Linked DNA regions of Homo sapiens. The protein of the gene in region 1 purifies or fractionates together with the protein of each later gene. This does not show direct contact. Each region holds a gene or a part of one and is shown in the gene's direction. Other genes may lie near its edges. The genes, in order: SPNS2, IPO9, PCYOX1, INF2, PRPF39, NUP210 and PASK.

Region 1 (3,500 bases):
TCCTTCTTTAACTCTGTCCTTTAAATCTGTTTTTTCATAGTGTAGACCAGCTTTGTCCAAAAGAAATATAATGTAAGCCACATATTCCTGTCAAATTTTCTGGTAGCCGGACTAAAATAGTACAAGAAATAGGTGTGATTAATTCATAATATATTTTATTTAACTCAATATATCCAACATATTTCAACATGTAATCAATATAAAAGTTGTTAGGGCTGGGCGCGGTGGCTCACGCCTGTAAACCCAGCACTTTGGGAGGTCGAGGCGGGTGGATCACCTGAGGTCGGAAGTTCGAGACCAGCCTGGTCAACATGGTGAAACCCCCCATCTCTACTAAAGTAAATACAAAAATTAGCTAGCATGGTGGTGCACACCTGTAGTCCCAGCTACTCGGGAGGCTGAGGCAGGATAATCGCTTGAACCCAGGAGGTGGAGGTTGCATTGAGCCAAGATCGCGCCACTGTACTCCAGCCTGGGTGACAGAGTGAGGCTCTGTCTCAAAAAAAAAAAAAAAATTATACACACACACACATATGTATGTTGTTAATGGGATATTTTGCCTCCCTTTTCATACTAAGTCTTTGAAACCCAGTATGTGTATTTTCCATTCACAGCACATGTCAATATCACGGTGGCCAGGGGCCACTAGAGTGGACAGTGCAGGTCTAGAGTCTTTGTTGCCAGAGTTCGAGCCAAGGCTCTTCAGCTTCCCAGCCGTGTGACCTTGAAGACATCACCTGAGCCTTCTGTGTGATCATTCCCCTCCCGCCTGCCTCCCGGGTTGCGTGGGATAAATGAGACTGTATCTCGAGCACCTGGGACGGGGCCAGATTCCTAGGAGGGCTTCACGAGTGCCAGCTGCCTTCTCCTTCATGCCTCTGCTCAAGCTGGCCACGATGCCTTTCCTGGGATTTTTGTTGTTGTTGTTCTGTTTTTTGTTCTGTTTATGACAGTCCTTTCAGGACACCTTTGCAAGCCCCTCCCTTCTCCACAGGGCTGGTCTCCATCCTGGGAACTCTAGTAGCTTCTGCCCCAGCGCCACCCGGTGAACCTGCTAATTACGGCCTCTCCTCCGCCCCATGAGAACCCCCTGAGGGCAGCAGGCCTCAGAGCGGGTGAGGAGGGCCAGGCTCCTGTGCTTGCTCTTCTTACCGAGCGTTGCTTCAATTGGATGAAATTGAGGTAGCCCAGAAACCTCTTCTAAATCCTTCCTTGCACCTCCTTGCGCAGATGGGAACACAGCCATCCAGAGAACAAAGACACTTACCCAAGGTCACACGGGGGGCGGAGCAGGGCCACACCAGCCAGAGCGGCATCCTCTCCAGTCCCAGGAGCCCCAGGTGGAGGTAGGGGCATGACCCTTGCTTCTGGCCTGGGAACGCAGAGGCTCTGCTGGCTTAGGCAAGAGCCCTTTGGGTAGATGAATTTCAGTTTAATTGAGCCAAGGCAGTTTGAGCTCCCCTAGGGCACATGGCTCCTGCTCCTATGGTCCCTAGCAGCCACCCACTCTGCATTCTGAGCCCACTCCTAGCTGCAAGGTCAGGAGAAGGAGGGAGTCCCTCAGACGGGGGTCTCACGCCCCCTCTAACTAGCTCTGCTTCCTGGTGCCAGAGCCACCTCTGCCACCCAGGCTGCCATTCTTACCTCTGTGAAATGGAAGCAGAGCTGAGGGTGTAGGTGGCAGCATTTTGCTCCTGGAACCAGGCCCCACAAGAGGGAGGTGGCCCTGGCCTTGTTTATGGGTGGTGAATGACTATTTGGGAACTGAGATCCTTCCCCAACTTCTGTGGGGTACCTGTTCTCTTCTCAAGACCTATTTTCTTTCCCTTTGATCCAGCCTGGGGCAGCCTGGGCACTTGGAGTTGGGTGGAGTGGGGGCTGTTGAGGAAAGGCAGAGCCTTGCCCTGGGGGAGTCCTTTTCTGCCAAAGAAGCTGAGACTGGTATCCATGGCAACTGCTCACTAACACAAACCCAGAAGGAGCGATGAGCATAGGGACCCAGCTGGGAACACAAGCCGAGAGGGACTTGGGGGCTTCCCCAGAGCAGCTGAGCTGGGTGCAGGAGGAGGGGGTGCCAGGCTGGGGCTCACTCTCCTATTGGCTTTTTTTTTTTTTTTGGTCTGTCCTGTTAAGTCTATCCAGAATTGAAAGATGGGGAAACTGAGGCCCAGGGTCTTTTACAGGGTCACCTGGTGGGTAGGGGCTAAGCCAGGCCCTGTCTTGTGGCTCTGTGGCTCTCTCTTTAGATAAGGATGGCCACCTTAAGGATAAACAGTGCCCCTGCCTTGCCCTCTTAGGTGGCCTTGTCCTGGCCACTGCCACATCTGCACCGTGGAGAAACCCCAGCTGAGGTGTGAGGGGCAGGGCATCCAGAGTGTCTGACTGGCAGGCTCAGCACCCAGGTGAAGCGCCAGGTGGTCTAGAATGTCAGCGCCCTTGTGACTAACTGCCTGCTGCCCACTTCCTTGCTCCTGCTTCCTTTTCAAGGCACCTTCCAGCAGGCTCTGCCAGCCCCTCCGCTGTGCTGTCATCCATCAGAGGAAGTGCTTTGAAACATAGTACCTTGGTCTGGGGCCCTGGACCGGTGATGGGCCTGGCCTGTGCCTCTGTTTCTCATTTTGTGGATGAGGCAGGAAGGCTGCAGGTCTGCAGGTGATAGCCTGTTCTGAGAGGGAGGCTGCCCTGTTCAGAGCTGCTCAGAGGAGGAGCTCCTTGTCCCTTCCCCAGAACCTTCTGCAATAGGAAGTGGCTTTTGTTTCTGCCTGTGGGGGCCTGAAATCTTGAAGGTAGAAGGGGGATGAGAGTGAGGGAGTCCAGGAGAACACTGGCCCGATCCCTAGGCTTCTGGGGCTGGGCTCCCTCTTAAGCTCCAAATGTCTTCTGGGCTGAGCTTCCTGTTCCTGGCTCTGCCAGCCTTCGCCAGCTTTACTGTGTGACTGGAGGCAAATTCTGACTCTCTCTGATCCCTGAATCCATGACAGATGATTTTTGTCCCTCTCTTGCTGTTGTCAGTGTCTTGGTCCCAAGGATAGTGTGGTGCACTTGGTCTCAGGAACTCCAGTCTGCTGGTCCCTGGCTCTGCCTGCACCTCCTTTCCCCAGGACAACCAGATCTGCTTCCCGGGAGCTACAGTAGCCAACTGCGCTTGTCCCTGGTGGGTCTCAGCGGTGTCCTCTTTCCAGGATGCCGTCTCCAGTGCTCTGGGTTGAACCAAGTGCCTAACTCCCGGTTTTGAACTGTGCTCTGCTCCGCCTCCATCACAGCACCTATCCCCATGGAGAGTCACCATCCCCCTCTAGCCATGGTCACACCTGGGACCCCCGCATGCATAGGAGACTGCCCCAGGCTTGAGCTCTGTTGACTGAGTCACAGACTCAGTTGACTGAGACTTGGGTTGACTCATACCTGCCTGACCCAAAGCACATCCTTCTGGGCTGAAAGGGCACTGGTAGGTTTGGACAGCTCAGGTGAAGGGCCAGGCCCCTGTGCTGACATCAGGG
Region 2 (3,500 bases), on another chromosome or scaffold:
ATTTCTGTAACACTTACTCTCTAGTAAGGACTTAGGGATAAAGATAATAAATAAAGGGCTAATAAGCAAGAGACATAATTCAGAACTTTGATGATAGAATAGGAAATTGGGCAAATGAAAAGCCTCCTAAAAGAAAAGGGCTAGGACTATAATTTAGAAAAGGAGATACTAAAGAAAGATATATGGAAAAGTTTATAAACAAAGGTATTCACTAGATATTTTTTACAGTAGTAAAAATTTGGAAATTATAAAAAGACATTAGTTAATTATATCCATAAAATGAAATACTGTGCAGCCATTAAAAATCAAGCTTAAAAGGAATATCTGAAACCATGGGAAAGAGCTTACATTATAATAAATGAAAAGATACTTTTCCCAAAAAATCCATAGAATATGATCCCAAGTTTTGATTTTTCTTTTAGAAAAGCATGTATGTATAGATAGGTATGTTTTAAAAAAAAATACATCAAAATGTTGAGTGTTTAGGTAGTGGAATTACAGGTGTTTTCATTATTACTTTTCTGCATTTTAAGTTTTTTTTTTCCTGTAGTGAATGTATTTATTAATACCTTATTACTAGTAAAATATTAAGGATTCTTTTTTTAAAGAGAGAGCTCCAATATTGAAGCTCAGAAAGATGTACAGGATAAGGATTATTTATATAATGTGATATACTGAACATGTTATTTGATAGCTTTTTCACTGAAAAATGTGTACTGAGGAGCTTTCCACATTGTGTTCTTGGATATATCTCATTCTTTTCAGCCATTACTAATGTTCCATAAAATGGGTATATCATAATTTACCCATTCTGTTAATGGACATCTAGGGTATTCCCAATTTTTTTCTATTACAAACAATGCTGCAGTGATCTTTTAAGGTATACTTTAATGCACATTGCCTATATTTTTCCATACTAAATAGAGGAGGATGTTTTGTTCTATAGATAAAGAAGATTGAGCTAAAGTTCCCTTTCTTCATAAGGCTCTGCTTTTTAGGAGTTTTGCCTTTTGCCCCAGAAGTAGCTTTGAGAGTTCTTCATGTCTACCGTGGCTACCCCATAGGAGATATGTATGATTTCTCTCATGCATCAAAGCCAGTGTTTTGGCAATTTTTGCAGCTTTCATGTCTTCTTAAAGTATCAGTTGGGCTTTTTTTTTTTTTTTAAGCATTTGGTTTTATAACGTAGGTTTCACAAGAATAAAGACTTTAAAGATTTTTCTCTAGAAAAAGCCACATTTTGTTTTATGAGTAGCTGTTAATGACTAGTCCCTACTTTAATGAAGCCATACAAAGTGTACCTCTTGCAGATTTAGGATCTCTCCTGTTCTTTCAGGTTATTCATGTGGCCCCACTAGGTCCCGGGTATGTGATAAGTAATCAATGCAGAAGTTGTTAACTTAGGTTAGGGCCAAACAACAGGCATCATTAAGCGAGAAGCAGATGCAGACCATCAGGCAGGGGGATTCCGTGTTGCCTTATCCACTTCAGATCCCGTCGTCGCCTCACTGGCTCAGGACATCTTCAAGGAGCTGTCCCAGATTGAAGCCTGTCAGGGCCCAATGCAAATGAGGCTGATTCCCACTCTGGTCAGCATAATGCAGGCCCCAGCAGACAAGATTCCTGCAGGGCTTTGTGCGGTAAGTGGCCGTGTGTGTGTGTGTGTGTGTGTGAGAGAGATCTACAAGTGCCACCCACAGATGCATCTAGCTGACAAGAACCTAATAGCGTTAGAGATTCATGGGGTGATTTTGCTGAGCTCTTTTGCCTGCAAGGACAGTGGGTGATTCTCTGAAGCTTTAAGAAAATGGCTTGGCTTGGCGCGGTGGCTCATGCCTATAATTGCAGCACTTTGGGAGGCCGAGGTGGGTGGATCACAAGGTCAGGAGTTCGAGACCAGCCTGGCCAATGTGGTGAAACCCTATCTCTACTAAAAATACAAAAATTAGCCGGGCATGGTGGCAGGCATCTGCAGTACCAGCTACTCAAGAGGCTGAGGCAGGAGAATCACTTGAACCCAGGAGGCAGAGGTTGCAGTGAGTGGAGATCGTGCCACTGCACTCCAGCCTGGGTGACAGAGCGAGACTGCCTCAAAAAGAAAGAAAGAAAGAAAATGGCTCTTCTTGTTCCAGAGGTACCCTCAGTGAATTGAACAGAGTGCCACCTTTACACAGTGCCACTAAGTATGTCACCTGGTTATCCAATCCACTACCATGTACTACTGCCCACCCCTATGGCTAATCAATTAGTAAGCTATTATGAGAAGGCTGAGAGTACTACCCATTTAATTATTCCTTTTATTTTGGAAACTTGCCTTTCATTAATAAGCTTTCTCTGGGTTGCTATGTAATACCCATCCAGTAAGGATCTTGGTTGTTGGGCAACCCCCACCCCAGAGGCAATTCTGACTTTTCTTTTTCTTCTCTCTTTCAGACAGCCATTGATATCCTGACAACAGTAGTACGAAATACAAAGCCTCCCCTTTCCCAGCTTCTCATCTGCCAAGCTTTCCCTGCTGTGGCACAGTGTACCCTTCACACAGATGACAATGCCACCATGCAGGTATCTGAGACATGGAGAGTAGAAGAGGGAAGATAGCTCCCCAGCCATGGGCTTATACTATGCTGAGAAATCTGACATGGTTTTATGCTTTTGAAATACGGAATTCTCAACTCCATATTTACTTAGCAGATTCAGGAAGGGTTCAGTCTGCAAAAGCCAAGCATTTCTGGTGCTTTGGAGCATGTTACAGTTTTTAAAAATATGGATACCAAGCACCCTGCCCATCTGTATTGGGTATTGCTACTGTGAAAGAGGTTACAGACATCTAGACTTGGGGCCATAAGAAAGTCTTTCTGCATATTTCTTCTAGTAATAAAGTCAGCAGAGTGATGGGCCTCTAGAGAGGGGAGACATGCCTGAATATTTTTTCTCTTTTTGTTTCTTGGGTGAATTGGTTACCTTTTCAGGTGTCTGCTACTGTGATTGATTAGAAAGGTTATAGGAACTTGCCAGTGAATATTGATCAGCTTGGAAATCCCTAGGCAACTAGTGGTTTGTGTAAGACCTATATAAAGACCTACAGTATCCCCAGTTATTCCAAGATTGTAAGCATATTTTTTTAGTACCAGAGGTAGACCTTTATGATTAAAATTCATTTTGCTTGGCCATTGTCCCTTGTGATTAAAAAAATATATATACACATTTGTGAGATAGCTGATTAGGTAAAGGGGGAATTATGTAATGCACGTCTATGTCTGTAACAGTAAATGTCTTAACTCCAGTGGTATGAGCCCACCACAAACATTATAGACTCACCGCTTTTATGAGGCATAGGCCTCTGGGAACATTTGTTTATACAGACTGAGGGCCTTCTGGCATCTGTCCCTCGATTACTAATCTTGCTTGCCACCCCTGTCTCCCCAGAATGGCGGAGAGTGCTTGCGGGCCTATGTGTCAGTGACCCTGGAACAAGTAGCCCAGTGGCATGATGAGCAGGG
Region 3 (3,500 bases), on another chromosome or scaffold:
AATTCACTCAGATTACGTTCTTTCATTTGATCAGCATAGACACCACTGACTTAGCTGTGCTTTATGTTTTTGCAGGTCTCTCTGCTGTTCAGGCCTCTGGTGGCCTACTGGGGATATATAATGGAGAGACTCTGGTATTTGAGGAGAGCAACTGGTTCATAATTAACGTGATTAAATTAGTTTGGCGCTATGGATTTCAATCCCTCCGTATGCACATGTGGGTAGAGGACGTGTTAGACAAGTTCATGAGGTAATTTTTTTTCCTTCCATTTAACCTAAGATCTTTTAATTTAGGTTAAATTAAACTTGATGAACTTTAGGAATTATGATTTCTTGTAAGCATTTTCTACCTCACAGCAAGGCCTGTTTATAACATTGTTAGGCAAAATGTTTTGTAGAAACTATGCAGACTATTTGCTTGGATATTGAAAGGTTGGTTTATTTTTGCTTCTGAAGTGTATTTTGCAAATGCTTCTTTAGTGTTGCCAGATACTGTTAGATGCCTTGAATTCTTATGACAACTTACTCTGGTAGGTACTGTTTTTAGCTTCTTTAAACAGATGCAGAAGGTGGCGGTGTAGAGAGGTTTTAAAAGGCAAGTTCACCCACATAGTAAGTGGTATAGCTGGAGTTGCCACCCAGGCAGTCTGGCCTTTGAGTCTTCACTCTTAATCTCTATGCTGTGCTGGTGTTGTGTATATGAATTGAGATAATGTGTACAAGAGCTTGTAGAAAGGATCAGAAAACTTAAATGGCCTTTAATAGTGACATGTTTTCAGTGAACCAGCAGCCTGAAGTAGAGTAAAAGTTCCATATTCCAAGAATTTACATTCTAGCACTGTTTTGGGTAGTGAGAATTCAGGTGCCTCTTTTTCGTCCTTATGCTTTTCTATATTTAAACAGTTTTTTTAATGCGTGTGAATATGTATCACTTTGGTAATCAGGAAGACTAACATAAAATAGCCAGTCTAATTTTGAAAGGTACAATCTGTATTTTTAAAGCTGTTGGCATGTTCTAGTTTTTTAGTTTTTTTGTTTTTTTGTTTTTGAGATGGAGTTTCGCTTGTTGCCTAGGCTGGAGTGCAATGGTTCGATATTGGCTCACTGCAACCTCTGCCTCTTGGGTTCAAGCGATACTCCTGCCTCAGGCTCCCGAGTAGCTGGGATTACAGATGCCTGCCACCACGCCCAGCTAATTTTTGTATTTTTAGTAGAGATGGGGTTTCACCCTCTTGGCCAGGCTGGTCTCGAACTCCTGACCTCAGGTGATCCACCTGCCTCGGCCTCCCAAAGTGCTGGGATTACAGGTGTGAGCTACCGAGCTTGGCCGGCATGTGCTAATTTTTTTTTTTTTTTTTTTTGAGATGGAGTTTTGCTCTGTCGCCCGGGCTGGAGTGCAGTGGCACCATCTCGGCTCACTGCAACCTCTGCCTCCCTGGTTCAAGCGATTCTCCTGCCTCAGACTCCCGAATAGCTGGGATTACAGGTGCCTGCCACTGTGCCTGGCTAATTTTTTGTATTTTTAGTAGAGACGGGGTTTCACTGTGTTAGCCAGGATGGTCTTGATCTCCTGACCTCGTGATCCGCCTGCCTCAGCCTCCCAAAGTGTTGGGATTGCAGGCATGAGCCACTGTGCCCGGCTAGCACATGCTAATTTTTATGCTGCTTTACAGTTTTAGGTACTGGAGGCCAGGATCGCATCATTACACTCCAGCCTGGGTGACAGAACAAGATTCCATCTTGAGGGGAAAAACAAAACAAAACAAAACATGTCATATGACCAGGTATTGAACAGGACAAATATGAGTTAAGCAGGGCTGGGCACAGTGGCTTATGCCTCTAATCCCAGAATTTTGGGAGGCTGAGGCTGGTGGATCACCTGAGGTCAGGAGTTTGAGACCAGCCTGACCAACATGGTAAAACCCTGTCTCTACAAAAAATATAAAAATTTAGCCGGCGTGGTGGTGCATGCCTGTAATCCCAGCTACTTGTGAGCCTGAGGCAGGAGAATCACTTGAACCTGGGAGGCAGAGGTTGCAGTGAGCCACGATCGTGCCATTACACTCTAGCCTGGGGGACAGAGCCAGACTGTCTAAAAAAAAAAAAAAGAAAGCTAAGCAGGATATGCTCTGGTTTCTATAACTCATGGTAGTTTGGGGTTTCTTTCTTTCTCAACATCATTCTTAGGTCAGTTCCTTAAATGCCTTTCCCGTGGGTACCTTAAGTCCATCTACAGTGCATAATGTTTTTAAGTAGCCATTCATTCATTCACCCAATATTGAATACCTGTTAGGTGCTAGGCATTGTTCTATGTTGAGAGTATAGGACCTACAACATGTCCTTGTCCTCAAAGAATATATATTCTAGTGGAGAGACAGGCAATACACAACCAAGGAAATATATAGAATTTGCGTAGAGACGGCCAGTCACTTTATAGAAGGTGGGTGGCATGGTGCTGCATACTCAGCAGGCAGATCAAGTTCTGATGGCATCAGCCCTGCTTGTGTGTATTGTTTTTCTTTTCTTTTCTTTTTTTTTTTTGAGATAGAGTCTCGTTTTGTCGCCCAGGCTGGAGTGCAGTGGCGGGATCTCGGCTTACTGCAACATCTGCCTCCCAGGTTCAAGTGATTCTCCTGCCTCAGCCTCCTGAGTAGCTGGGACTACAGGCACATGCCACCATGCCTGGTTAATTTTTTGTATTTTTAGTAGAGATGTGGTTTCACCGTGTTAGCCAGGCTGGTCTCAAACTCCTGACCTTGTGATCTGCCTGTCTCGGCTTCCCAAAGTGTTGGGATTATAGGCGTGAGCCACTGTGCCCGGCCCTCTTTTTTTTTTTTTTTTTTTTGATACAGGTCTCACTCTGTCACCCAGGCTGGAGTGCAGTGGTGTGATCATGGCTCACTGCAGCCTGGACCTCCTGGGCTCAGGGGATCTGCCTACCTTAGCCTCTGTGTAGCTGGGACTACAGGCACGTGCCATCAGATCTGGCTAATTTTTTGTATTTTTTTTGTAGAGATGAGGTTTGGCCATGTTGCCCAGGCTGGTCTTGAATTCCTGGGCTCGAGTGTTCCACTCACCTGGGCCTCCCAAAGTGTTGGGATTACGGTTGTGAGCTCCTGTTCCCAGCCTTGTTTTTTTTTTTATCTGTGGCTTGCTTGAGATGTAGAGAATTGCCCTTTGAGAAATTAAGAAATTACTTTTTTTTTTTTGAGATGAGTTTCACTCTGTCACCCAGGCTGGAGTGCAGTGGTGCAATCTCGGCTCACTGCAACCTCTGCCTCCTGAGTCCAAGCGATTCTCCTGCCTCAGCCTCCTGAGTAGCTGGGATTACAGGCATGTGCCACCATACCCAGATAATTTTTTTATTTTTAGTAGAGATGGGGTTTTACCATGTTGGCTAGGCTGGTCTCAAACTCCTGGCCTTAATTGATCTGCCCGCCTTGGCCTCCTAAAGTGCTGCGATTACAGGCATGAGCCACCGCACCTGGCCTAAGAAATCA
Region 4 (3,500 bases), on another chromosome or scaffold:
ATCATGATGCTGCTGAGAGCGCCTTTCTGCCCACCTGCTCCCAGGGGGCCCTTCTGTCCTGCTGTGGGTCCTCACAGTGGCCCGGGGGCCCTCTTTGCACAACAAGCGGAGTTCAAGATCTTGGAGGGCTTTGGAGGCAGGAGCCTTGCACTCCATCCAGATCTTGGGGACTGCAGGTGGCATGAGGGCTGGAGTGCTTCTTGGGTGTGAGACGGGCCAGGTGACAGTGAGGACACAGCCAGCCCTCACCAAGGCCCAGTGCGCCCCATGCCCCTGGACACGTGGCAGTGGGTGGACCCCCATCCTCACCTGCCTTGAGGCCCCCTGTGCACAGACCCTCCCTGGGCCTTGCCGGCAGTTGGTGAGCCACCAGGTCAGTAGAGGTCCCTCAAGGGGCTGTTGGCCTGGTGGGGAAGGTGACACATGCTGGAGGCTCAAAGGAGCTGGGAGTCTGAGTGTGAGGGAGGGGAATGGGGGTCATGGTAGGGCAGGTTCAGCTCCAGGTGCCTCCACCGCCCTGCAGGGCCTGGGCTGCCCAGAACCCCGGGGTGCTGCCAGGAACGCGTGCAGTCCTGGAGATCCATGGGTTGCCAAGCAGTGGAAAAATTGGGGCTCTCGGAGGAGCTAAAAATACAGTGTGGCAGCCCCTGCCTCCTAGTTCCGGAATCCTCTCCTGCCGTTCTGCCCACCCACCCCGTGGAAGACAAGCTCCCTCCCTGCACCCCCACCACCAACGCTGGCTCAGGGCCCAGAAGCACCCAGCCCTGTGCCAGTGCCAGAAGGGCGACACCACAGCTGCCTGCCCACTCCCAGGCAGCAGCCCCCCACAGGTGCTCATGTGCCCAGCCAGTGCCTGCCCTACCCCCGCCACTGCTTCAGGGTCCCCAGAGCCCCTTGGTCCCAGGCACAGTAGGCAGTACCTGCCACCCCAGGGCTGCCAGGCTCAGGGCTTGGCCTGTTCCTCGTGGGGAGCCTGGACCCAGGCAGACCTCTCCCTTCCCTACCAGTGGGGACTTCACAGGGGAGGGGGCTGTCCCAGGCAGACTCAGAACATGTCACAGCGGGGGCCTCCAGGCCCATTGGTGCTGGCCGAGGGCATAGGAGCTCCCACACTGTGCTGTGGAAGGCCCTCCTCGCCTGGCTCCTGGGAGGCAAGTGAGGGAGCCGAGGCCTGGGGGCTTCAGTGGCTGGCTCAGGTCCCTCGCGTGCTGGGATTCAAGTCTGGGTACCCTAACCCTGGCCTGTGTGCCGCTCAGAACCATGGGCCCATGCAGGAGCCCCCAGCTACTCTCCACAGCTCGGTGCTGGGCCTGCCTCAGGAGCCCACACTCCCTGGCTCTGGTTTTCTGTCTGCACCGCAGGGGCTAGGCACATGGCTGCAGGTCTAGTGAAGGCCAGCATGGCCCTGTCCCCACCCACACCACACACTCAGCTTGACTGTTGACTGCTAGGCGGGGCGGTGGCCCGGTGGCTTCCCGAGAGTCAGTGCAGCTGCCCTAGCATGTAGGCATTCGGATGGAGGTGCTGGCATCACCACACCAGGCTGGCCAGGCCCAGGCCCAGAGGGGGACCCTGCCTGCCAGAGCTAGAGTCAGGGGAGAGGCATGGCCCCGTCCTCTGGAAGCCCCAGGCTATTGGTTGACAAAAGCAAGTGCTGAAGAACCATGGTGATGTCCCACTAGCATGGGTGGGGTGAGCCCCTCAGACCTCAGAGTCTTCATCTGCAAAAGACCCTGCCCTGTGCAGTTCCATTGGTGCTGGTGGACTGCCGGGGGGGGTGGATGGGACGCCCCTTCTTGGTGCCCTGACCCTTTTGCTGTCCAAGGCATGGGGTCTGGCCTGAGCCATGGGTACTGGGCCCTGCAGAGCCTGGATGGTCCTGCCCTGCCTCAGCCAGAGCTGGTGCCGGCTGTAGAAAAGATTGCGAAGAACGCAAATTCCTGTGCCTGTGGGGAGGTGGCCACGCCCTACAGCCGGGGCTGGGGAGCTCTGAGGACACATTCCTGCGCTGGTGGCCCCGCCAACCCACTTTCCAGATGGAGAGCAGAGGGGAAGGGTAGCCTGCCCAGGGGCACACAGCTCAGCAATGAGACTCCCGCCCCCTTCCCTTCTCAGTTGGCACTGGCACCTTCCAGCGTATTGTTCCCCATAGCCCCGTGCCCCTGAGATCAGTAAACTGTGGATTCCTTCTGGAATCCTTGCAGAAGTGGACACCACCCCCCAGTGAGAACAGGCAAGGCTGTTTTTGCAGAGCTCGCTGTAGCAGGGAGTCGGCCACCGCCACCCGCGTTTAGCAGAGACTCACAGGCGGGCGGGGGAGTGGGAAGCCTCATGGTTTTCTCATATGGATAATTCACTCTATACATAGAAAGCTTTTTATAGACACAGGGAAGGCTCGGGGATGCCCTGAGAGAGGCTGCTGGCTGGAATTTGGGCTCCTATGAGATGAGACAAAAATCACAGAAGCTGTCAGTTATTACCCAGGTCCCAGCCATTTGGGGCCAGTGGCCAGATTGCGGGTCAGAGTGCTGCATATATGGTCTGGCCGTGGTGTGTTTGCAGGTTCAGCCTCATGCTGAAAAGCAGTTGGAACATTCTCCGGTGTAGAGCCTGACGGGGGGCCTGGGTGAGATCGGGCAGCCTTGGCAGCACCACAGAAGGAGGAGAGCAGCTCCGGCCTCAGCCTCCGGGGCCTCAGCCGGAGCCCTGTCTATGCCGGGCCGCAGCCCAGCGAGACCCTGTTACACTCACTGCCCCCAGACAGCACCCGGTGGGACACGGCCAGCTGGGGCAGCTCAGACACAGAGCCAGGCACCCAGGCACGGGGGTATAGGAACCTGATGGGCAGGAGGGCCAGTTTCCTCCCACCGTGGCTCCACCCCACTGACCAAGGGGGATCCTCTTGACTGGGGTCTTTCAGGGGCTTGCACAGGGCAAGGAGCGCTGGGCAGTGCCAAGAGGGGCAGTACTCAGGTCAGGGAGCATCTTCTGTGTCCAGGGACACCCTGGGGCCTGGGGCACGGTGGCTCTCGGCGGCACTGCTTGTCTCTAAAAGGTCAGGATTTTTTGCATGGAGGGACCCCCGGGGCTCTTGGCTGGAGAGGACACTCTGGATGCCAGGGGCCGGGCCTGGGAGAGTTCATAACTCCGTCCACTCAGCCTGTGCCAAGGGGACAGGGACTCCGGCCAATGGAGGCGGGGGAGGAAAGGAGGGTCAGTTCTGGGGCCTCTTTAGGCAGCAACAGCCAAGGCGGGTGGGAATATATGCAGAGGCCCGGCTGCCTGGCTCTTCATGGTGGTGGGAGCAACCCTACTGCCACCAGGAGGGGCGTTGGGGACCTGAGGCTGCCTGGGAGGGACCCGGCTGTCTCTGGCAGCTCAGCGGTCAGCAGCGATGAGAAGCCAGGGGAGCGTGAGGAGCAGCCCAGGACAGGGCCCAGAGTGGGTGGGCAGAGGTGGCCGGAAGGTCTTGCGCATCTGGGTGAGTGGACGGCCACTGG
Region 5 (3,500 bases), on another chromosome or scaffold:
GCCACTGCACCTGGGCTTTTTTTTTTTTTTTTTTTTTTTTTTTGAGACAGAGTTTCATTGTCATTGAGGCTGGAGTGCAGTAGCGTGATCTCAGCTCACTGCAGCTTCCACCTCCTGGGTTCAAGCCATTCTCTTGCCTCAGGCTCCCAAGTAGCTGGGATTAAAGGTGTGCACCACCACGCCAGTTAATTTTTGTATTTTTAGTAGAGATGGGGTTTTACCATGTTGGCCAGGCTGGTCTCAAACTCCAGACCTCAAGTGATCCTCCTGCCTTGGCCTCCCAAAGTGGTGGGATTATAGGCATGAGCCACCACGCCCGGTTAAGATGTTTATCTATAGTTGTAGTAAAGATTTAAATTATTTGAAGCATAGAGATTTTTTTTTATGTTTTGTTTTCTAATTGTCATGGTAGGTCATGTCATACTAAATACAAGATAGGCTATAGAGTTTTAATTTACTGTCATTGAACAATTTGCATTGTTTAGGAGGTACTAGGATGATCAACTGATTGAAAAATTCATCAGTGTGTTAATGAATTTTTTCACCCCTTTAGATATATGCTGAAAACATTTAGCATGAGTTGTATTTTAATACAATTTTCAATATTTTTTCAAATTGAGACATAAAAACTAAGGCATTTTAAATATCTGTGCTCTAATAAAAATATTTTAGAAATATTCATTGATGCTGCTTTTTACACAGGAGAACACAAAGTTATACCTCAATTTACTTGAAATGGAATATAGTGGTGACCTCAAACAAAATGAAGAAAATATCCTAAATTGTTTTGACAAAGCTGTACATGGTTCATTACCTATTAAAATGAGAATTACATTTTCTCAGAGAAAAGTGGAATTTCTTGAAGATTTTGGTTCCGATGTTAATAAGTAAGATATTAGTTATATTACCTATTTGAATGATAAATGAGCATTGATATTTTTGTATGGGGATTTGATGATTAGTATAGATTAATACATTGTTAAATTTTAAAATGTTCGCTTAGTTTACTTTTTCCTCAGATATATATGGGGGTAAATTCAATTTTGTAAATGTATATGTACTTAACAGGAAGGCATAAGGTTTGTCTTTCCTTCAAAACTGTTTTCCCAATTTTAGAATGACAATTTAAACCATGACTGAATGAGAGAAGGCAGGAAGGAGCAATCCTGTGAAAAGGGAAATGGGATAAGGATTGAACCCTGAAACCCAAATATTTAATATATAGGTCAATAAAGATGGATGGGATTAATCTCCAGTAGGAGTGCTATTTTCTGAGATTGGAGAAGAGGATGGATATGGTCCCACAGAACATGCCTAGTGGCCTCATCTTCCTTCATTGTAAAAGCCGAAAGTTGAGGATGGTTGAAGAGAATGCTCCAGTGGATTTGGGAAAAGGACAAGTTTAAGATTAAATTTACTAAGAGTACAAATATTGGCTAGAGCATTGCTGAAGTTCCAGTCTTATCTGATTGTAGTAAGCAAATACACCAGTTCCTGTTAGGCATGTGCCTTTTATGATTATTCGCATTTAGATTTCTGTTGAAACCACTGTAGATAAACTGAGAATTAGTTGTGTCTGGGTGTTTGTATATGTGTGTATATATTTTTGATGGCTGTGTAAAATTTCAGTGCAACTAATATAACAGCTAATGTTTATATTAGTGTATTTTAATGTATTAATGTATATATTTGCGTGCTTGGCATGATGCCAAATGTTTTATATTAGCTATCTTGCAGAAAATTCATAGCAGTAGAATGAGGGTGTAGGGTTCTGTTCTCTTAATAGATGAGAGGATTAAACAGAGATTAGGCATTTTTTCTGAGGTCATGTAGCTATTATCACATTGTGGAGCGAGGACTGAACCTACTTCAGAGTTTCTGCTCTTAACTGCTTGTGTGCTGTGTATTTAGTGTCTTATGTTTACACTGAAGAAGGTACACAAAAGATGAGATATGTAATTCTAGCTTCTAGTCTGGTTGAATGATATGATTAACAGGAAGTAAGTGTATGAGGTAGCAAATAACTGCTAGGAGGGCTGTGATGTCTCTCGATCAGAATGGATTTGTCATGCTTCATAGAGGAGGTTGGGCTTCATTTAGTTATTACTGGATTCTGATAAACTGAGCAGAGGACACAGTGGCGGAAGCAAGTTGAATCTCATCTAAAAGTAACATCTGCTTGATTGGAGGTTTTTGTGAAGTAGTGGAAGCGTGATCTTGACTGTGTTGTGCATTGAAAGCTAGACTGAATTGATAGCACATGCAGTAGGTAGCTGACAGTAGTAAGCTATTGGAATTTTGACCAGTGATGTTAAATGACATTATTTTAATTTGGTAAAAACAGGCAGACAAATCGGAGATTCAACACAAGTGTCATTTAGTCCATTATAAGTATAGGGAATGGAGTGTCTGAGTATCAGGACTATGATTTTAGTAGTAGAAATTTTAAAAATAAAGGAGCCGCTTAGAAATTTTCTTAGGCAGTTTCCTAAGTAAAAACAACTTTAAATATTTAATAAAGTTTGTTTTTTGTATATTCCAGAGGATATTTTTTTCTTTCCTTTCAGGCTTCTGAATGCTTATGATGAACATCAAACACTCCTGAAAGAACAGGATTCTTTAAAAAGGAAAGCAGAAAATGGGTATGTCACTTTTTGCTAAGTCAAGAAGGCGTGCTTCATTATGGAAATGCCTTCAAAGACAAATGTTTTTAAGTGTTACTTTTATGTTGTAATTTACATACTTTATTTTCATGATTTGAAAAAGTCTTGAGTGATTCAGAACTTCAGTAAAACAAATATACAGATAACATTCATCTATTCGTTAAAGTTCTTACCTGTGGGAGTTTTGAAAGTTTCCATTCTGACGTTTTATATAGATCAGAAGAACCAGAGGAAAAGAAAGCACATACAGAAGATACAACTTCATCATCTACACAGATGATTGATGGTGATTTACAGGCAAACCAAGCTGTATATAATTATAGTGCGTGGTATCAAGTGAGTCTGCATAATTATAATTCTTTGTTCATAGATGTTATTAGCATAAATTAGGATAGTTTCTTTTTTTTTAAAAAAAGTTTTTGTTCCAATTGTGTAATACATTCTTTGGTGGTTAAGTACTAGAATTTTAGCAGTGAACACTTGCTTGTTTTCTTAAACATAGCTGCTTTAATTATACTTTTACATATGGAACTCTGCCACAGTTCTAATATGCTAACATACTTACTTTTTCCTTTCAGTACAATTATCAGAATCCTTGGAATTATGGACAATATTATCCTCCCCCTCCAACCTGATGGGAAAAATGTAAATTTCAAATGCAGTGTGTGAAAAGTATGAAATTATTATTTTTTTTAATGAGGGATGTAAACAGTATAAGCTTGTTGTATTTGATAACCTGTCTTCCTTGTTTCTGTGTAACATGATTTGTTTAGTAATAGGGGGAAAATGTCAATTAGTAGCTTACCACAGATACTGTTTCCTACCATTTATAAAATT
Region 6 (3,588 bases), on another chromosome or scaffold:
GAGCCAGCCTCTTCCAGCACTTCCTGGATTCCTACCAGGTCATGTTCTTCACGCTCTTCGCCCTGTTGGCTGGGACAGCGGTCATGATCATAGGTGAGGAGGCTGCCTGTATCTCTGGGTCTGTTCCCCTGCCCCGACCTGCTCTAACCAACCCTGTGCTCTTGCAGCCTACCACACTGTCTGCACGCCCCGGGATCTTGCTGTGCCTGCAGCCCTCACGCCTCGAGCCAGCCCTGGACACAGCCCCCACTGTGAGTAGCCCCCCTGCAGGCACAACCAGGCAGAGCTGCTGAGAAAGAGAAGAGCCCTGGGGGAGGGGTCGAGGCTCCTGAACCCTAAGTCTCAACAGGCCCTTGCCTGGGCCAAAGGAGCCTGAGGCCCAGAGGACAGATGTGGGAGCCAGGAGGGTCGGGGCAGAGGGGCTGCCAGTCCTGGTTCAGCAAGAGCTTTCCCCAGGTAGAGCCATGCTGGGTGGAGGTATGGGCAGCAAGGAGCTCTGTCTAGGCAGGAGTGCATGCTAGGACTGGATGCCCAATTGCTGAGGCTGCCTCAGAAGGCTCTAAGCTGGGGTTGGACGAGCTGACTCACAGATGGGGATTCTGGGTAGTTCTGATGAGAAATTTCCCAGAAGAATGGGCAAAGTCATTTATTTCAATGGTCTAACTGTCTCTCTGGTGACCCCGAAGCCCTGGTGACCCTGCACAGCTCCAGGGAGCACCTCACTGTGTGAATGTAGTTTCTCTCTCAAACAATGCAGTGCCCAGCCTGTACTGCTGTACGTGAAGGCCCTTTAATGTCTCCTGATTCCCATTTGAGGGTTCTCTCCCCTACACAAAGAGTCCTCGAGCTCGTGTCTGCTGACATGGGGGCCCATGGACCGGCTTCAGGGGGGTCCCTGAATTTTTTTGAAAGAAGACCCAGTTGTGTGGGTAGAAGCACTTTCCTGGGTAAGGAGAGCCCACACGCCCTTGTCTTCTGCCTGACGACTTCTCTACCTGCAAAGCGGCACCCAGGGGAGGCCACGGGTGCTCGGCCTCCTCGCGGCTCTGCTGCCTTCTGCAGCTGCTCTGGCAGCAGGTGCCTGCCCTTTCTAGCTGCCTCTCTCAGCGTGCTCCTCCCTGGGTTTTGGGAGCCACACCTGGATCTCTGCAAGGTCTCCGGAGCACTGCAGAATCGCTGCTCCCCTCGGGGTCTTTGTTCCTGTGGCGCTCTTGCCCGAGGCTGCATTGCATTCAGATGCACGGGGCCTCCCTGCCTCATGCCCCCTGGACAGATGCTGCTGTGGTCCTGAAACTTGAGACACGTTCTCCCCGGAAGGCTCTGCGCTCCTGGGTGTTAGGGTGGCATCCCAGGCCTCTCTGTGTGAATGAGGCCAGCTCAGCAGGTGCCCGTGGACTTCCCTCTGCTGGCCGGGGAGGCCTCGGGGCATCACTGTGAGAGTGTCCTGGGTGAGGCAGGCGCCTGCTGAATGCTGGCTGTAACTGAAGAGTGCGCCGCTTTCCCTGGCTCTGCTGCTAACATCGTCTCTCTTCCCACCCTAGATTTCGCTGCCTCATCACCCACATCTCCCAATGCATTGCCTCCTGCTCGCAAAGCCAGCCCTCCCTCAGGGCTGTGGAGCCCAGCCTATGCCTCCCACTAGGCCGCGTGAAGGTTCCCGGAGGATGGGTCTCAGCCGAGCCTCGTGCACCCCCAAGATGGAACATCCCTGCTGCATTCACACTGGAACAAGCCCCTCCAGATGAGTGCCCCGGCCCCAGGCCAGCTTCACTGCCGTCTCTTCACACAGAGCTGTAGTTTCGGCTCTGCCCATTAGCTCATTTTATGTAGGAGTTTTAAATGTGTGTTTTTTTCCTTTCAAGTCTTACAAAGCTAAGACTTTTTGGCTCATTCCTTTTTGCATGGTTGTCTAGGGTTTCTGGACAATGTGCTGTTGCATTTTTATTTTCCTAGCCTTGCTAAAATCTTTCCCTTCTCAAGACTTTGAGCAGTTAGAAGTGCTCTTTAGAAGTTGTCTGTGGGTGATGTTACTGTAGTGGTCTCAGGGAAAGGATTGTCCAGTTACTTTAGGGGGTTTTTGGTGGGGTTTTTCCCCCTGTGAAAACTTACTTTGCCCCTAGTCTGGCTGCTGCTAGGACTTCTGAGGAGCAATGGGACATGAGTGTCCCTGTATCTGCGCCACTGCCGCAAGGGAAGCCTCAGGAACCAGCACCTGGAGGCCAGGATAGCCAAGCCCTGGGTGAGCGAGAGGCTGGAGAACACAGGAGCTCACCCAGGGCTGCTGCCCAACCATGGGCCACTGTGAACAGACTTCAGTCCTCTGTTTTTGTTTCATAAGCCGTTGAGACATCTGATGGACTTGGCTTAGGCCCTGCTGGGACATCCCACGTGTGATCCCTTTCACTCCATCAGGACACCAGGACTGTCCTTAGGAAAATGTCCTTGAGATGGCAGCAGGAGTCATATTTTCTGTGTGTGTGTTTCGGAAAGCCGCTGTGTCCTGCCTCAGCACAAAGACCCAGTGTCATTTGCTCCTCCTGTTCCTGTGCCACTCCAGAACCTCAGCAGATCTGAGCCACCGCCTGCCAGTGTGAGAGGCGGCCACTTTCATGGCAGCTCATCAGGCGCAGGGCCCCAGACAGCTTCCCAGCAGGCCCTAGAGCCCGGCCTGGGCCAATGATGGAGGGCGGCCGCCAGCCCAGGGCCTGCCCATCCAGAAGGGACTCCCCAGGGCCTGGGGGAGGAGACCCTTGGAAAAGTCCTCTCTTCCCAGCTCCTGATTCTGGATCTGAGATTCTCAGATCACAGGCCCCTGTGCTCCAGGCCGAGGCTGGGCTACCCTCAGGGAGATCCAGAGACTCATGCCCATGGCCATCCATGCGTGGACGCTGTGTGGAGAGTCCAGGATGACGGGATCCCGCACAAGCTCCCTTCAGTCCTTCAGGGCTGGGCCATGTGGTTGATTTTTCTAAAGCTGGAGAAAGGAAGAATTGTGCCTTGCATATTACTTGAGCTTAAACTGACAACCTGGATGTAAATAGGAGCCTTTCTACTGGTTTATTTAATAAAGTTCTATGTGATTTTTTAAGAGGGTGTGATCGTTGCTGAGATTTCTGTCTGATGGTGATGATTTCTTCCCTTTACCCATCTATGATACTCTGGGGCCTGGCAGAGCTGGAGGTCTGAGCTTTATTCTCCCCAAAGGGTGAGCATCATTTTCAAGCACATTCAGGTTGGCAAATGCAAGTGCATCTGGACGCAGCCAGATCTTGCCAGCAAGTGAGTGTGCCCAAGAAGGCACATTGACAAAACCAGGTGATGCCACACAGTTCAGCTTTCTGCTCCCAAGCTAACCAAGCAACTCTCTGTCTCTAATGGTTGCCAGAAAAGGCTTTTAGCACCATTTAGCACTAAAAATATAGTACATCATATAGATTGTTTTTTCTCTAGAATTCTTAAGTCTGGCCAAAAGTGAACTCTCGTTCTCTGTTTCTCTGTGTGTCTTTGTGCATGCTTACATGTGCATTCCTGCATCCTGGAAATGTTTTTTTGTTTTGTTTTGTTTTGTTTTTGTTTTTCGTTTGTTTT
Region 7 (2,937 bases), on another chromosome or scaffold:
TTAGCCTCGGAGCTGCCCGATGGCCTCTCCACTCCTGGCACATGGCCTGCTGGCTGGCCTGGGGCAGAAGTGCGTGGAAATGGAGGGCGTGTTTGAGGGGTGGAGTGACCCTCCTCTTGGGAAACCACTGCCTGGCCTGTGTGCTGGTCGGGAAGGGCCATGGTGCTTCCCATGGGCGGGCTTGGCAAGCCTGCGCTGAGTGCCGTGGCGTCCTGATGCCTCCTCCTCCTCACAGCTACAGAGGGCCGGAGCTGGAGATGTGGTCTCTGGGAGTCACTCTGTACACGCTGGTCTTTGAGGAGAACCCCTTCTGTGAGCTGGAGGAGACCGTGGAGGCTGCCATACACCCGCCATACCTGGTGTCCAAAGGTGAGCGTGAGCTGCAAGTGGTAGACAGTCGACACTGTCCTTAGAGACCAGCCACTTTTTTTTCCCATTTCCTCATTCCTCAGTGTATCTCTGTCCATATCAACAGTCTCATTTGTTTCTTTTCTATTCATCAAATAATTTGCATATGACTTTAAAACATCTTGATAATTTAGTTTTTGTTAATGTTCCTCTTTGGATCTTAGAGGCCCTCTTGTGAGAAACACACTTGCAGTCAGGACAGGGAGGCTCCAAGTGGCCCTGTTGACTTGGTGCCTACATGGTTAAAGGAACTGGGGCCCGAATCCAGATGCAAGGCTGGGGGCTTCTCTCAGCTTGTGCTGGCATCCCCTCACCTGTCATGTTAACCCTGCGTTATTCACAGCTCTGCATTGCCAGAGCCCCTGAGAATAGAGCAGTTAGGAACCTCTGCACCACCTGGATTTTGGTTGAGTGGGATGGCATCTTGAACTCCAAGCTTTCATTTCAGAGGCAATGAATGTTTCCTGCAGCTTCTGTCCAAGCACAGCTGGGCCCTGCACTAGAGGTTCCTGGGCCGCCACCTGCCCAGTCAGAGGCTCTGCGGGGGGGTGGTGAGCACCCAGGAATCTGAGATGTGCTCCACTTCATCCCAATCTGGACCTACCATCTGTGTTCTTTGTGTCCCCAGAACTCATGAGCCTTGTGTCTGGGCTGCTGCAGCCAGTCCCTGAGAGACGCACCACCTTGGAGAAGCTGGTGACAGACCCGTGGGTAACACAGCCTGTGAATCTTGCTGACTATACATGGGAAGAGGTGTTTCGAGTAAACAAGCCAGGTGAGGCTTCTCAGCATCCCTCCACCCCACATGACTTCACTTGGAATAACGAGGTCCCCAGGCTGCCTTCCTAGGTCAAAAGGAGGAAAAGGAGGCTCTCTCCCCCATGCTGTCTTGGACACAAATGTCAGGGCCTATAGCTGACCTGTCACCTGTGAGAGGGGGTTTGATTCTGTCCCGAGGCCTCTGGACACCACTGGGGTTCAGGGTGTGGCTTTGGACCTTGGAGGGTGGGCAGGTGTCATGGGAGCTCCTGGCAGAAGGGGTCGGAACCCTCAAAGATGGTTTGAGGAATGCAGCTGGTGATGGTCTGACTGGGCCGAAGGGGAGGATGAGGCCACAGATGCTGAGAGTGATTCTCTAGCAGCCGGCGGGGCCGAGGGCTCTTCAGACAAGGCTCTGGCCACAGAGCCAAAACCACTGCTCAGAGCATTTGGACCAAGCTGCGGTTGATGGCCCTGGGCTTAGATCCCCACCTTGGCAGGATCTGTACTTCCGGGACATTGCCAGTTGGATTTCTGAGGGCCTCACCTTAGGCTTTTGTTCTAGGACTTCTTCAAGTGAGAAGCAAAGTATTTTAGAACCTTAAGTTGTTAGCACGTGATACAGTTACCTTCTTGTTTCTTCAGAAAGTGGAGTTCTGTCCGCTGCGAGCCTGGAGATGGGGAACAGGAGCCTGAGTGATGTGGCCCAGGCTCAGGAGCTTTGTGGGGGCCCCGTTCCAGGCGAGGCTCCTAATGGCCAAGGCTGTTTGCATCCCGGGGATCCCCGTCTGCTGACCAGCTAAACACCAATTTCTTCCTGCTTTTCTCCACTTGGTTTGGAAAATCACACAGTTTTCAGGCTCCATCTGTTTGGAGAAAATACATTCTGAAGCATCCCCAATTCACCTTCTAAAAACTCATGTGCAGGTTTGATAAACACCAGAACAGAAGACAGTGATGCTGTATTATTTTAGATTTATTACATAGATTTGGAATTCACTTTTTTCATGACCTAGAAAAAAACATTCCAGTGTTCAACTGTTTTATATTATTAAAGGGCTTTTAATTTGTGAACTTCTGAAGGCATGAGTGTTTTCTCTTTCTACTTTTGTATATGTGCATGTTTTGTTTCCTCTGACTTGGTATATGCTCATCTGAGTGACGGATATGTGAAATTTGTAGAACTGGTTAGTCAAATGGCCAGACTATTTCATTAATTTATTTCCTCAAATGCTTTTCAAATTAAAGCACCTTTGTTAGTAAACAGTTATCCTGACTTGGATGTTGTGAACTGTTCCCGTGTGCTAAGTGTGAGAAATACCTGGTTTCCTCATTTTTCCATGTGTGCACCCCACTTGCCACAGTTGGAGAGAAGTCTAGCCTTGGCCATTCTGGGGTTCCTTTTACAAGCAGGCCCTGCCAGGGGTGGGCCTAGGGCTCTGAAGCTTGCTCCATCTGGTAAGACGGGGGAGGGTGGCTTCCTCAGGGACCTCCCTTCTGTCTGTAGCAAGACTCTGCTGTCAAACACGTGGCTGGCTCACTGCCAGCAGTCCCCAAATATCCCATGGCCAGCCAGCTCCCACCTCTGTCCACATGAGGGGCTTCCTGGCCCAGCCCCCACCTCTGGTCTGTGTGAGGGGCTCCAGCCCTGTATTCCTCCGAGCTGCTCAGGTTCCAGGGTGTTTGTCAGATACTCAACTGGCTGCTTCCCTCCCTTAGACTCCAGTCCATCCCCCTCAGACAGACTTGGCTAGGTCAAGTACTTAGGAT

Evidence for each region.
Region 2: the proteins of SPNS2 (region 1) and IPO9 purify together in Homo sapiens (affinity purification with mass spectrometry; one large-scale study listed by BioGRID and IntAct). This does not show direct contact.
Region 3: the proteins of SPNS2 (region 1) and PCYOX1 purify together in Homo sapiens (affinity purification with mass spectrometry; one large-scale study listed by BioGRID and IntAct). This does not show direct contact.
Region 4: the proteins of SPNS2 (region 1) and INF2 purify together in Homo sapiens (affinity purification with mass spectrometry; one large-scale study listed by BioGRID and IntAct). This does not show direct contact.
Region 5: the proteins of SPNS2 (region 1) and PRPF39 purify together in Homo sapiens (affinity purification with mass spectrometry; one large-scale study listed by BioGRID and IntAct). This does not show direct contact.
Region 6: the proteins of SPNS2 (region 1) and NUP210 purify together in Homo sapiens (affinity purification with mass spectrometry; one large-scale study listed by BioGRID and IntAct). This does not show direct contact.
Region 7: the proteins of SPNS2 (region 1) and PASK purify together in Homo sapiens (affinity purification with mass spectrometry; one large-scale study listed by BioGRID and IntAct). This does not show direct contact.

What each region holds. Positions count from the first base shown.
Region 1 is NC_000017.11:4,501,881-4,505,380, forward strand, and holds part of SPNS2 (sphingosine-1-phosphate transporter SPNS2), read left to right. Parts: intron 1-3,500.
Region 2 is NC_000001.11:201,867,157-201,870,656, forward strand, and holds part of IPO9 (importin-9), read left to right. Parts: intron 1-1,491; coding exon 1,492-1,640; intron 1,641-2,433; coding exon 2,434-2,562; intron 2,563-3,426; coding exon 3,427-3,500. UniProt on the Homo sapiens protein: Nuclear transport receptor that mediates nuclear import of proteins, such as histones, proteasome and actin. Serves as receptor for nuclear localization signals (NLS) in cargo substrates.
Region 3 is NC_000002.12:70,261,137-70,264,636, forward strand, and holds part of PCYOX1 (prenylcysteine oxidase 1 precursor), read left to right. Parts: intron 1-75; coding exon 76-250; intron 251-3,500. UniProt on the Homo sapiens protein: Prenylcysteine oxidase that cleaves the thioether bond of prenyl-L-cysteines, such as farnesylcysteine and geranylgeranylcysteine. Only active against free prenylcysteines and not prenylcysteine residues within prenylated proteins or peptides.
Region 4 is NC_000014.9:104,696,118-104,699,617, forward strand, and holds part of INF2 (inverted formin-2), read left to right. Parts: intron 1-3,500.
Region 5 is NC_000014.9:45,111,616-45,115,115, forward strand, and holds part of PRPF39 (pre-mRNA-processing factor 39), read left to right. Parts: intron 1-702; coding exon 703-887; intron 888-2,567; coding exon 2,568-2,642; intron 2,643-2,878; coding exon 2,879-2,999; intron 3,000-3,241; coding exon 3,242-3,298; 3' UTR 3,299-3,500. UniProt on the Homo sapiens protein: Involved in pre-mRNA splicing.
Region 6 is NC_000003.12:13,315,735-13,319,322, reverse strand, and holds the end of NUP210 (nuclear pore membrane glycoprotein 210 precursor), read left to right. Parts: coding exon 1-93; intron 94-167; coding exon 168-251; intron 252-1,541; coding exon 1,542-1,642; 3' UTR 1,643-3,088; downstream 3,089-3,588. UniProt on the Homo sapiens protein: Nucleoporin essential for nuclear pore assembly and fusion, nuclear pore spacing, as well as structural integrity.
Region 7 is NC_000002.12:241,105,599-241,108,535, reverse strand, and holds the end of PASK (PAS domain-containing serine/threonine-protein kinase), read left to right. Parts: exon of another isoform or gene 1-69; intron 70-235; coding exon 236-369; intron 370-1,036; coding exon 1,037-1,183; intron 1,184-1,812; coding exon 1,813-1,970; 3' UTR 1,971-2,437; downstream 2,438-2,937. UniProt on the Homo sapiens protein: Serine/threonine-protein kinase involved in energy homeostasis and protein translation. Phosphorylates EEF1A1, GYS1, PDX1 and RPS6.